Linked DNA regions of Homo sapiens: region 1 is linked to region 2. Evidence: fine-mapped expression QTL. A gene starts in region 2. The other region holds a variant in brackets. All regions are shown on one strand. Distances are from middle to middle.

Region 1 (5,366 bases), 38 kb after region 2:
TGTATTACTTTTATAATTAAGATGTTAAAGTCCTGTGGGGTCATTTCAGAAAATAATCATTACTGTAATGATTTTTCAGTCTTTCCAGTGTCAGCCTGCCTTTAGCTAAGATAATTCCAATAGTAAACGGACAGATCCATTCAGTTTGCAGTGAAACACCTAGTCATTTTGTTCAGGTAAGAAGAAAGCTTGGGAGTGTTATTAAAAGCAAATTATATTTGTGGTGGTGGTCATGTTTGTCTAACATAAAGTTACATTCTCTGCTGAGAGGTTTTTTCAAAAAATCACAGAACTTGGAACTACATGTAGAGTATGGTAGAGTGTCCCATGAGAGTAATAACGGACCATAGCAAATGTGTAAGTTTGGAGTACCTTTCTCCGTGTTGTAGTCCAACACTGTGGGACTACATTTTAGTCCAGGTGTATTATAGTGGTCAGTTGAATTTATATAGCATGAATGTTTGCATTAAGCTGTGCTAGTAAGAAGATTGATCCTTGGGGCAGATCAAGGATCCTGTTCTACACATTTTGAGGAAAACTAAAAAAATTTGTGGAGAAGTAAAGCATTTTAGTGATTAATAAAATGTAACAGTTAATAGTGCATCAATAATATGCTCACTAAAAGCCACATAAACAGTGGGTCATTTAAATGTTTTATCAGACTACCTATAACTCCATCTTATTTCTTCATTTCCATTTGGAATGCATGGAGTAATTCAGTAATTCATTGAGTAATTCAGTAATTCATTGAGTAAGACAAATATTATAAACAAAATAACTTTGAATTTCTGAGTCATGTGCAAACTTGGAAACTGTGTTATAAGTTAAAAAATTGTTTGCAATGCCAGTTGCAAACTGCTTCAATAATGTACAATGAGAAGAGACCCTATGGCCTAAGCATAAAGCTGACATCTTCTTAGTGTAACTTGTCTCAGACAATTTAGTGTATCCTCTCTGTAGACTTTTTACTCTTGGGAACGTGGAGAGCACTGAGACTAAGAGTTCGTTTCCTCCTTTCACTGTGGTGTCATCAGCCTGTCCTTCACATGCACATTTTCCCACACTGGACTCTTCAGTCTTCTGTCCTCTTTCTCACCCCTAAGAGCTTGGCACTCATATTGCAGAAGAAATAGTGAATAAGACTGATCTCATTTTACTGAATGTTAAGCTTCACATCTATATCAATGTGAGAAAAAGGTCATAACTTGGGGCATTTAAACCTTACCTTTACCTTTGTCCTCTTCTGTAGAAGTCCCTGGCTTGGCCAGTAGGCTGTTCATTTTGACAGATGAGTGGAAATTACAACCAAGCATAAAGCATCATCAGCCTTAATGCTTAAATAATTTTATGCACTACACTTTAATTAAAATCGATATAATTGATAATAAAAACAAATGTTTCAATATGGTAAAAACGCCATTGATACTAATGTTTAGTAAAGTTTTTTACTGTAACTGGATGTATATTAAATGTATATACTAGACCATTGATTGACAAGGCTATTACAATTATAGTTTAATTTTTTAAACTATAATTTCTATGAGTTAAAATACCAAGTGGTCTTCTTAATAAATTGTCATATGCTTTACTATTTCCACTTATCTTTTTATAAAGCCTTTGCCTTGATTAGAATGCTAATTTACATAAAATTAGTCCTTTCGAATTACTGCTACTACTTCAACTACAATGGTGTGTAGGAGAGCCTATGGTGGGAATGCTGTAGAACAGGGGTTTGGCAAACTGTACAGGGCCAGATAGTACATACTTTAGGCTTAATGCAACATACATTCTCTACAGAAACTATTCAACTCTGCTCTGGCAGTGTGAAAGCAGTCAGAAACGTACATGAACAAAAGAGTATGGCTGTTTCAACAAAACTTTATATACAAAAACAGGCGGCAGTGGATTTGGCCTGCAGGCCATACTTTGCTGACCCCTTTGGTAGAAGATATTAGGATGGTAGTTGGTAAAGGTAGGAAATGGGAGAATCAGAAAACAATCGAGAAAGGTGGTTTTTCAAATTATTTTCAAATAGCTTTCAAATAACATAAGCAGGAGATAAATTATTTCAGATTGCTTTCAGATAACATAAGGAAAGAGCTTTTATAGTGTGAACCAACCCTATGATACATAATTTTTATCTCAGACTACTGAAACATCCTAGAAGCTGCATCAGGATACAGTATTTGAACAGATTAAAGTCTTTATTATAAAGCTGATATAAGTTAGCTATGACCTATGAGCCAAATCCAGCCAAGCACCAGCTTTTGTAAGTTTTATTGGGTGACAGCATGCCCATTGGTTTATGTGTTGTTTATGGCTGCTTTTGCACTACAATGGTAGTATTTCTCAGATTTGTCCATACACCTCACATACATATGTACACACATATACCACAGTCCTCCAGTGTTTAAATCATTTTTAGTGTATAAATTAAAAACTCAATAAGATCCTTAAGATTAGAGCTTTTTCGTAACTCAAAACCAAAGCACTTTTATTGTCAAGTAGAATCTAAATTACAAAAAAAGATTGTTCTATAATATGGCTGACGTCTACTATTAATAATTTGTTGTGCCAAAGTGAATGTGGACCTGTCTGCTACTGTTCATGCTGTTGAGCATTCAGCCTGCATTTTCTGAAGCTGACTTGCTAGTATTTTTTTTTTTATCTACTGTAACTATTCTGAAAGCTTCATTTGTATCATGTGTTTTACATGATTTGGTCTTCATTTGAAAGATTTTCTGCCTCTGTTCTTCTCTCATTAGCACAAGACAGTTAAAGTAATGTTACTTAAAGCCAATAA[G/T]AACATAAATATAAACAAATGCCCTAAAATCAGGAACAATAGTAGGTTATATATTTTATCTTCTCAATAATCAAGAGCGTGTTTGAGTTTTCTTTACATTTTCATAGAAATCAAAACACAAAATTTCCCCTCAAATTCTTGGGCCCCTGAAAGTATGTCTGTAAATTCTGGTTTGAGAAACATTGATCTAAACCTATGTTTCATTGAACACCTAGACTGAATACTTGAAACTAAATAACATCAAATTCTCTGATGAGATAATTTAACCATGAATTGATTGAGATTAGGACATGTCTAAACCTCACTTGGATTTTCCGATACTTAAGAAACAGAGATCACTAGGGACAGGTTTACTTCCCATTTCTTTGACACTCTCAGAGGCTGTCAACCTTTTCTATCATGGACCCTTTCACAGACTGGTGAAGCCTATGGACCCCTTCTCAGAACAATATTTATAAGTGCATACAATAAAATACATAATATTATAAAGGAAACCAATCATATATAGTTTTCAAAATTTCTTTTAAAATTAAGTGTATGATATAGCGGTATTGCTTCTTTATTCATGCATTAAATACCAAGATATAATGAGAGTTCTGATAACTTCCACAACTGTCATATGACATGAAAATGCCTATGATTTCTATTGAAGACAAAGTCATACAACCTGCTAATATTATCACAGTTTGTTGCCTACATTCATAATTGAAAGAGATACCAGATTTTGGTTAGAAGTTAAAGAAAATGAAGGTGTAATTTTTTTCTTATCTTCACATTCGCAAATCCCTTGGGGTGTTAATAACCCTTACACTATAGTGTATATGTGTGGTTCATGTATGTGTGTATATGTAAAATATGCACTTACTACACATATTCATACCGTATGTTAGATCTTCTAGAAAGTAATACACCCTTAACCGTGTTATGTCAGCTTCCAGCAAAAGTACCTTTACTCCTACAATTATTTATTCAACAGATACCTATCTAGCACTTGACATACACCAAAATTCATTTGAAGACTATTTGGGGTTTTTGTCCCTCAAAGTCACACTTGAACGCTTATGATACCATCATCCCTCATATAAGAACCTAAATAATAACTATCTCCTAGAATTTATTACAAGAAAAACTACTCATTTTCTTAAATGGTTTGCCTCTTGGCCTTTACCACAAAACTTAGAGCTGAATTCATCGCTTGATTGCAGAAATTAATTCAAATTAGCTATATGTTTTGCAAACTATAATGTTATATTATCATCTTTGCTAGGATCTGTTGACAATGGAGCAAGTGAAAGACTTTGCTGCTAATGTGTATGAAGCTTTTAGTACCCCTCAGCAACTGGAGAAATGATTTTTCCTTCAAGAAAAACTACAGTGGGATTCATTTACTTTTTAAAATACACTGGGTAAATCACCTATACTTAGAGTAACAGTTTGTTATCAAAATGCCTGATAAAATATATTCTTAATAAAAGTCTTCATTTCATAATGAAATCAATTTATTTGGCATCTTAATATATTTTTTTAGATTCATCAACAGACCAGTTTTTGTGGGCATATATATATACACGTGCAAATATCAGAATTGTTAATAATTTGTTACACATGGACATTTGTTCCAAACTGACTAAAAATCAATATAGATATTTTATATACATATATATATATAAAAATACAAAATTCAGTGTACTTTACCATATTAATACTGAGGAAAAATCTGTTGGAGACATAGGTCTAGGATGTGTGAAGTTTGGAAAAATATGCTATTTAATTATAATGTTCCCTAGACTGCTGTAAACAGAAGTGAATCAGACTTTTCTCCAGCTACCTTTCAAAATAATAAATTATTTGTCTCAAATATACCTTGATGGAGGACTTTTTTATTCTTATGGAAATAGTGAATTCCAACAACTATGATGAACTATGTTCTTTGCTATTTCTTCACTATATTTTTTAAGGTTTTATTAAAAAGCCTTAGAAAGTTACATATTGGTTTAGAGGCTAAAATTGTGTTGATGCTGTTTACTCACCTAATTACATAGTTTTAATCATTTGTACATAATTTTAAAAACTTACTTTGTATTGATTTTGAATACAGTGAAAATCTTATTGCAATAAACTATTTTAGTAAAATATTATTTTGTTGAGTTAATATTTTTCAGCTATTAATTTACTTATCCCATAGCATTTTTGTTATTATTTCGGAAGAGAGAGCATGCTAGTTTAAGTTTCATTTTAATTGGTCGTGTACTTGGTGCTTTTTTGTTGTTGTTAACTTGTTCATTTAGTAAAAAGCAAATAGCTTTACTTTCTGAAAAAGAAATAATTCATTATCTCTAGTAATACATCTGTAATTCTTCATTTAGAAGGGTAATTAGGGCAAAAGTAAATAAATCATTATATATCATTAGTATGTTGACATATATTTTCAGTAACATTGTTTTATGTTCCTCCAGCGTAACATGTAGCTGAACAGTAGAAGGTAGAAAATAAATTATGACATCTCTTCTAAGGCCTGGCTAGGCCTGAAGCTCACTGCCAGGGAGTTTGTGTCTAGAATGTT
Region 2 (5,392 bases):
AAGGATGCTCCCAAAATACTAATAGTATTATCTCTAATAGTAGGACTTTTAGGTAATTTTTACATAATTTGTTAACCCTTTTTTATAGTTTGAATTTTTTATGACCATGAATTATTTACATAACCAGAAAAAGAAAACATTAAAATATTTTCACTTTGGGAAAAAAAAAAAGGGCATTACTGGATCAAAGGATAAGCTCACTTTTAAGGCCTTTTATATCTGCCTAGCCAAATTGTCCTAATAAAAGGGTGTTCTACGCTTTTACACTGTTGGTGGGACTGTAAACTAGTTCAACCATTGTGGAAGACAGTGTGGCGATTCCTCAAGGATCTAAAACTAGAAATGCCATTTGACCCAGCCATCCCATTACTGAGCATATACCCAAAGGATTATAAATCATGCTGCTATAAAGACACATGCACAAGAATGTTTATTGAGGCACTATTCACAATAGCAAAGACTTGGAACTCAACCCAAATGTCCATCAATTATAGACTGGATTAAGCAAATGTGGCTCATATACACCATGGAATACTATGCAGCCATAAAAAAGGATGAGTTCATCCTTTTCATTTGTAGGGACATGGATGAAGCTGTTAACCATCATTCTGAGCAAACTATCACAAGGACAGAAAACCAAACACCGCATGTTCTCACTCATAGATGGGAATTGAACAATGAGAACACTTGGACACAGGGTGGGGAACATCACACACCGGGGCCTGTCATGGGGTTGGGGGGAGAGGGGAGGGATAGCATTAGGAGATATACCTAATGTAAATGACGAGTTAATGGGTGCAGCACACCAACATGGCACATGTATACATATGTAACAAACCTGCACATTGTGCACATGTACCCTAGAACTTAAAGTATAATAATTTAAAAAAAGTAAATTAAACTTAAAACTTTCAACTTTGGCTTAACTAGAGTTAACTTTATCAGCATATTAAATAAAAACTGTAATATACATGTTACATACAAAAAAAAAGGGTTTTCTAAATTCAGCTCCTCCCAACCAACAAACACCTCAAACATGCACACCCTTATTATCACCAAGCATTAAAATTGCTTTCACTTTTGCCAATTTAACAGGTAAAAAATTGTGTATCATTTTAATTTGAATTTCATTAATAGTGAAATTGTGTATTCATTTATTTGCTGGCTACTCACTCGTCACTTCTTTTAGAAATATCATGTTCAGGTGAGGTGTGGTAACTCACACCTGTAATCCCAGCACTTTGGGAGGCTGAGGTGGGACAACTGCCCGGGCCCAGGAGTTCAAGACCAGCTCGGGCAACACAGAGAGACCCTGTCTAAACCAAAAAAAAATCTTCTAAAAATAAAAAGAAATTTTAAAAAGAAATATATTCATAGCCTTTGACCTTTTTCAGTATTAGGGTATACATCTTTCCTTTTACGTCGGAAAGTACTTAGATTTTATATAAATTATATGCTACGGTTATTAAACCTGTCCTTTTATATATGTCGCAAATATTTTCCTTCTTTGTATTTCCTTTACTTTGTATCTTTTTCTTTTTTGAGACAGGGTCTGGCTCTGTCTCCCAGGTTGGAGTACAGTGGCACAGACACGGCTCACTGCGACCTCAATCTCCCAAGGCTCAAGCAATCCACCTTCCTCAGCCTCCTGAGTAGTTGGGACTACAGGCACATGCCACCATGCCCTACTAATTTTTAAATTTTTATTTAGTAGTGACGGGGTCTGGCTAAGTTGCCCAGGCTGTTCTTCAACTTTTGAGATCAAGAGATCCTCTTGCTTCTGCCTTCCAAAGTTTTGGGATTACAGGCATGAGCCACTGCATCTGGCCATGCTACTTTGTATCTTTTTAAACATGTAGATGTTTTCAAAGAATTTCTAGACCTCTCTGGCTTTGACATTTTTTGTCTCTTAATTGTATTATAAACACCTAGGGATGTGATTCCATAGTTTACGTCCTCCTACACAGGATTAAGGAGGCAGCTGCTTCTTGGGTTTTAGCATATACAAGTTTCTTCAAGGTCTTAAAGGAAAAAAAGTACTTGTTAGGAGGGCTACATGTCACTGGGCAACAGGAACTTTTCAGCTTCATTATAATCCTATAGCACCACCGCTGTATATGTGGTCCTATAAGATTATAATGGAGCTGAAAAGTGCTAGCGAGCTTCTTAACTGGGATAAAAGTTTGTTTGTAAACGTATGTAAATGTATTTACATGTGCTAGCCCAGGGTCAACCTAAAAGGTAGCGAAAGTGTTTAGCCCAGAAGTCTACATAGAAACTAGGGTTGTCTACCTCCATACCACCCTGAATGTCCCCCGATCTCGGAAGCTAAGCAGGGTCAGGCCTGGTTAGTACTTGGATGGGACAATAGGGCTAAGGTGAGTAGATTTAATGCTCCAGGATAACGACCTTTACCGACAGGTCATTGTGTGGCACGTGGCTGTATGTAGTTATTAAAATGTAAATACATATATTTACAAACAAACTTTTTTTCCCAGTTAAGAAGCTCGCTAGCACACAGCATTCTGTTGAAAGCCCCCTTTATTTCGCAGTCCTGAAGGGAGTGAGGGAAGGAAGTAAAAGGGCAGAGGAAATAATGAATGAATGCGAGACGCCGATTGTACAGGGACTTGTTTCCATACTGCTCTCTACCAGAAACGTTCTCAGTTTCCTTCCTTCTGCTGGACATGTTCCAAGGGCCAAAACCTCAAATAATGTGACTTTGTAGATTGGAGAGTGTGTGACCACAGAAAGGAAAGGGAGGCAGCACGTGCCAGCCGGCGACAGAATGTTAAGTCTGCAGCATACTCCACCGCAATGAAACAAATAATTTGTGTATTTCCTCCCCTTCCTTCGCCCAGAGCCACTGTGAGAATGGGCTACAGAAAGTTTCGAGGCAGTAAAGCCAGTTGTTCACCCAGAACATCTGACTGCCATAAAAATTATGGTGACGAGAAAGAACGTTTGCTCAAATGCCGGGGTCGGGTTGAGGGCTGGAGAAAGGTCCCACCCCGCAGCATCTACCTCCCGGGCTCCTCACCATGTGCATCGCCTCCTCCATCCACTTTTCGGTCTCCTCTGCCGACACCGAGCACGCGCCGCTTGCAGCTGGCTTGGGTGCCGCCTTCGCCTCCATACCCAGCCACCACTCAGCTACAGAGCCCGCGGCAGAGGAGGAGCGCGGGCAGCGGAACGCGGCGGGCCCGGGACCCCGTTTCCGGGGGTAGTCTAATGAAAAGGCACTCGGGAGCTATTTCTGAACGGACCTGGGCTTGTCGGACCAGTGAGCGGCGGCGGCTGCGCGGCGGCAGCGGCAGAAAGCGTAGCTGCTTTGCTGTAGTCCACGCCCCCTTGCCGCTCCGGTGACAGTCTCTGCGGAAAGTCACGTTTGTGATTTCGGGAGAGCACAGAACGGGACGACGGCGCTCTTGCTGGGTCATCTGGGCCAGGTGACGAAGAAACAGTTTCCTGGTGAAGCAGTCCCTCACCCCTAGTCAGCCCACACCCCTAGGGCCTAAAGATGCTGAGGTCTGTATGGAATTTTCTGAAACGCCACAAAAAGAAATGCATCTTCCTGGGCACGGTCCTTGGAGGTGGGTGACAACGTGCTTGAAAGGGGGCATTGGGAGAAGGGGGTGGGAGAGGTGACTTCTTCTAAAATAAGGACAGGCCGGGCGATCCTAGTCTGGGATATGTAGAGGGAGTTCGATCAACCATGGGATGAAAAGGGAGGTGGCCAACCTCCAGGGTTCTCCCATCTCTGCAGTTGAGAAATGCCTCTGTGCCCTTTGCCCTGTCACCGACTCTTAACTCTGTTTCTCACCTATCCTTTTTTCTCACGGACCTTTGGAGAACTCATCACAGTTTAAGTTTCTGTTTCAAGGCACCATTCTCTTACAGGAACTTTTTAAAAAAAATTCTGCTTTCCTGTGAGATTCTGCATTTCTCCTTGGCACTCTTGATACTTTGGCTCTCACCCTTCTCAGGAGTTTAATAATAATCTAGGGAAGTTACCTATAGGCTGCACTTCGGGTGGTGGTTAAAGTCGATTTGAATTTTTGAAAACAGCGCAGTTGTCCTAAAGGACTGAAAGATATGGATTAGATAAAGAAAAACAAATCAATATTTTAGCTCTGTTTCTGCCATTTTAGAATACAAACTATGGCAGTAAGAAAAATGCTTGAGGGATGTTGTGCAATCTTCCTCAGGATCTTCAAGGTTGGGATCATTGTAATCTAGCTGACATAACTGAGTTGCACAGGCCCAGAGGAGATTTAGAAACAGATAAGATAAAAATCTTGAGACGCTTTTCCCTCATACAATGCTCATGTGATAATATTCAGGGATTTGAAGGAGGGAATAAAAGTTTTGTGAATTATATGAAAAGGACATCTAGGAACTATAAAAGAGGAAATTTGTTAGAACTTGAGTTTTTGAGAAATAGTCTCATCACTTATTACATGCTATGTTTACAAAAGTACTTAAAATCAAGAACAGAGTTTCCCAAAGAATTTGGTTGGCTTTTCTCTTAGTATTAGATTGTATTCTGTTCTCCCCAAACAATTTGAAATTAACAGTACGTATTAGATTGTATTCTGTTCTCCCCAAACAATTTGCAATTAATACCTTTAGCATCAATAGTTCAGATTTTGGTGATGCTTGAAAGTTTGAAACAGAGTTCTTGTTGCTGAGCCAAGGATGGTGTTTTGCATGTCTCTGAGGTCTATCACACATCAATAATAAGCATATGTAAATTTTGAACACCTTCGAGAAATCCTTTATATATAAAAGGTATTTTCTGATATCTTCAGTCGCTAGTATCTAATGTATATTTAAATTATCCTAAGACTACAGAGTCCATTTTATTTATAAAAGCTAAAAATATATGTGTGATTGAAGAAATACAAATAAAGTATTTTTGCGTTTACTGAAGGAAGGAAAATTATCTCTTTAGCGATCTCAGAAGGAATACTCCTTCAGCTTATGGAACAACTTTGTAGTAGATTAGAAATAATCACAGGGGAAGCAAAAGAGTATACTTAAACTTATAATTTTTTTAAAAAACTAACAAGAGCTTTATAGTTACAGAATAAGAGGAATGCAAAAAATAGAAAAGTTCAGACGGCCAGAAAGAGAAAATAATCCTAGTGTTTTATATCAAAAAAGGAGTCAGTCTGAAAAGAAAGGAAGAGTAGATGACCGTGGTTGGCATTTGTTTGAGTCTCATGTTCTTTCTGCTTCAGGGAGAAAGTTCTACAGTGTGTTAGATTTTAATTAGTCTAACTTAAGAAATACCTATCAAGTGCCTGTAATGCTGAAGGTAATATAAATGGAAATACAAGATTTATATATTTTTAATAGTAACAGCTACTATTTATTGGGTGCCCACTTT

What was found. PIP is the estimated chance that this variant, and not a neighbour inherited with it, causes the effect.
Region 1: its variant is the best candidate, but not a certain one, in a credible set for the expression of PEX3 in blood mononuclear cells (TOPMed, PIP 0.65).

What each region holds. Positions count from the first base shown.
Region 1 is chr6:143,485,073-143,490,438 of GRCh38, forward strand. It overlaps PEX3 (peroxisomal biogenesis factor 3), which reads left to right. Exons shown (of 12, transcript NM_003630.3): 11 at 80-176; 12 at 4,071-5,366. The coding sequence ends at 4,154. Among named protein-coding and RNA genes, the nearest start is that of FUCA2, 24 kb to the right of the region's middle. The variant G/T (reference allele first, on the strand shown) is at 2,804.
Region 2 is chr6:143,447,523-143,452,914 of GRCh38, forward strand. PEX3 (peroxisomal biogenesis factor 3) reads left to right here and starts at 3,283. Exons shown (of 12, transcript NM_003630.3): 1 at 3,283-3,593. The coding sequence starts at 3,521. It overlaps ADAT2 (adenosine deaminase tRNA specific 2), which reads right to left and starts at 3,173. Exons shown (of 6, transcript NM_182503.3): 1 at 3,041-3,173. The coding sequence starts at 3,136. It also overlaps the pseudogene RNA5SP221. RefSeq lists enhancers at 2,179-3,161, 2,964-3,123 and silencers at 2,204-2,283, 2,344-2,423.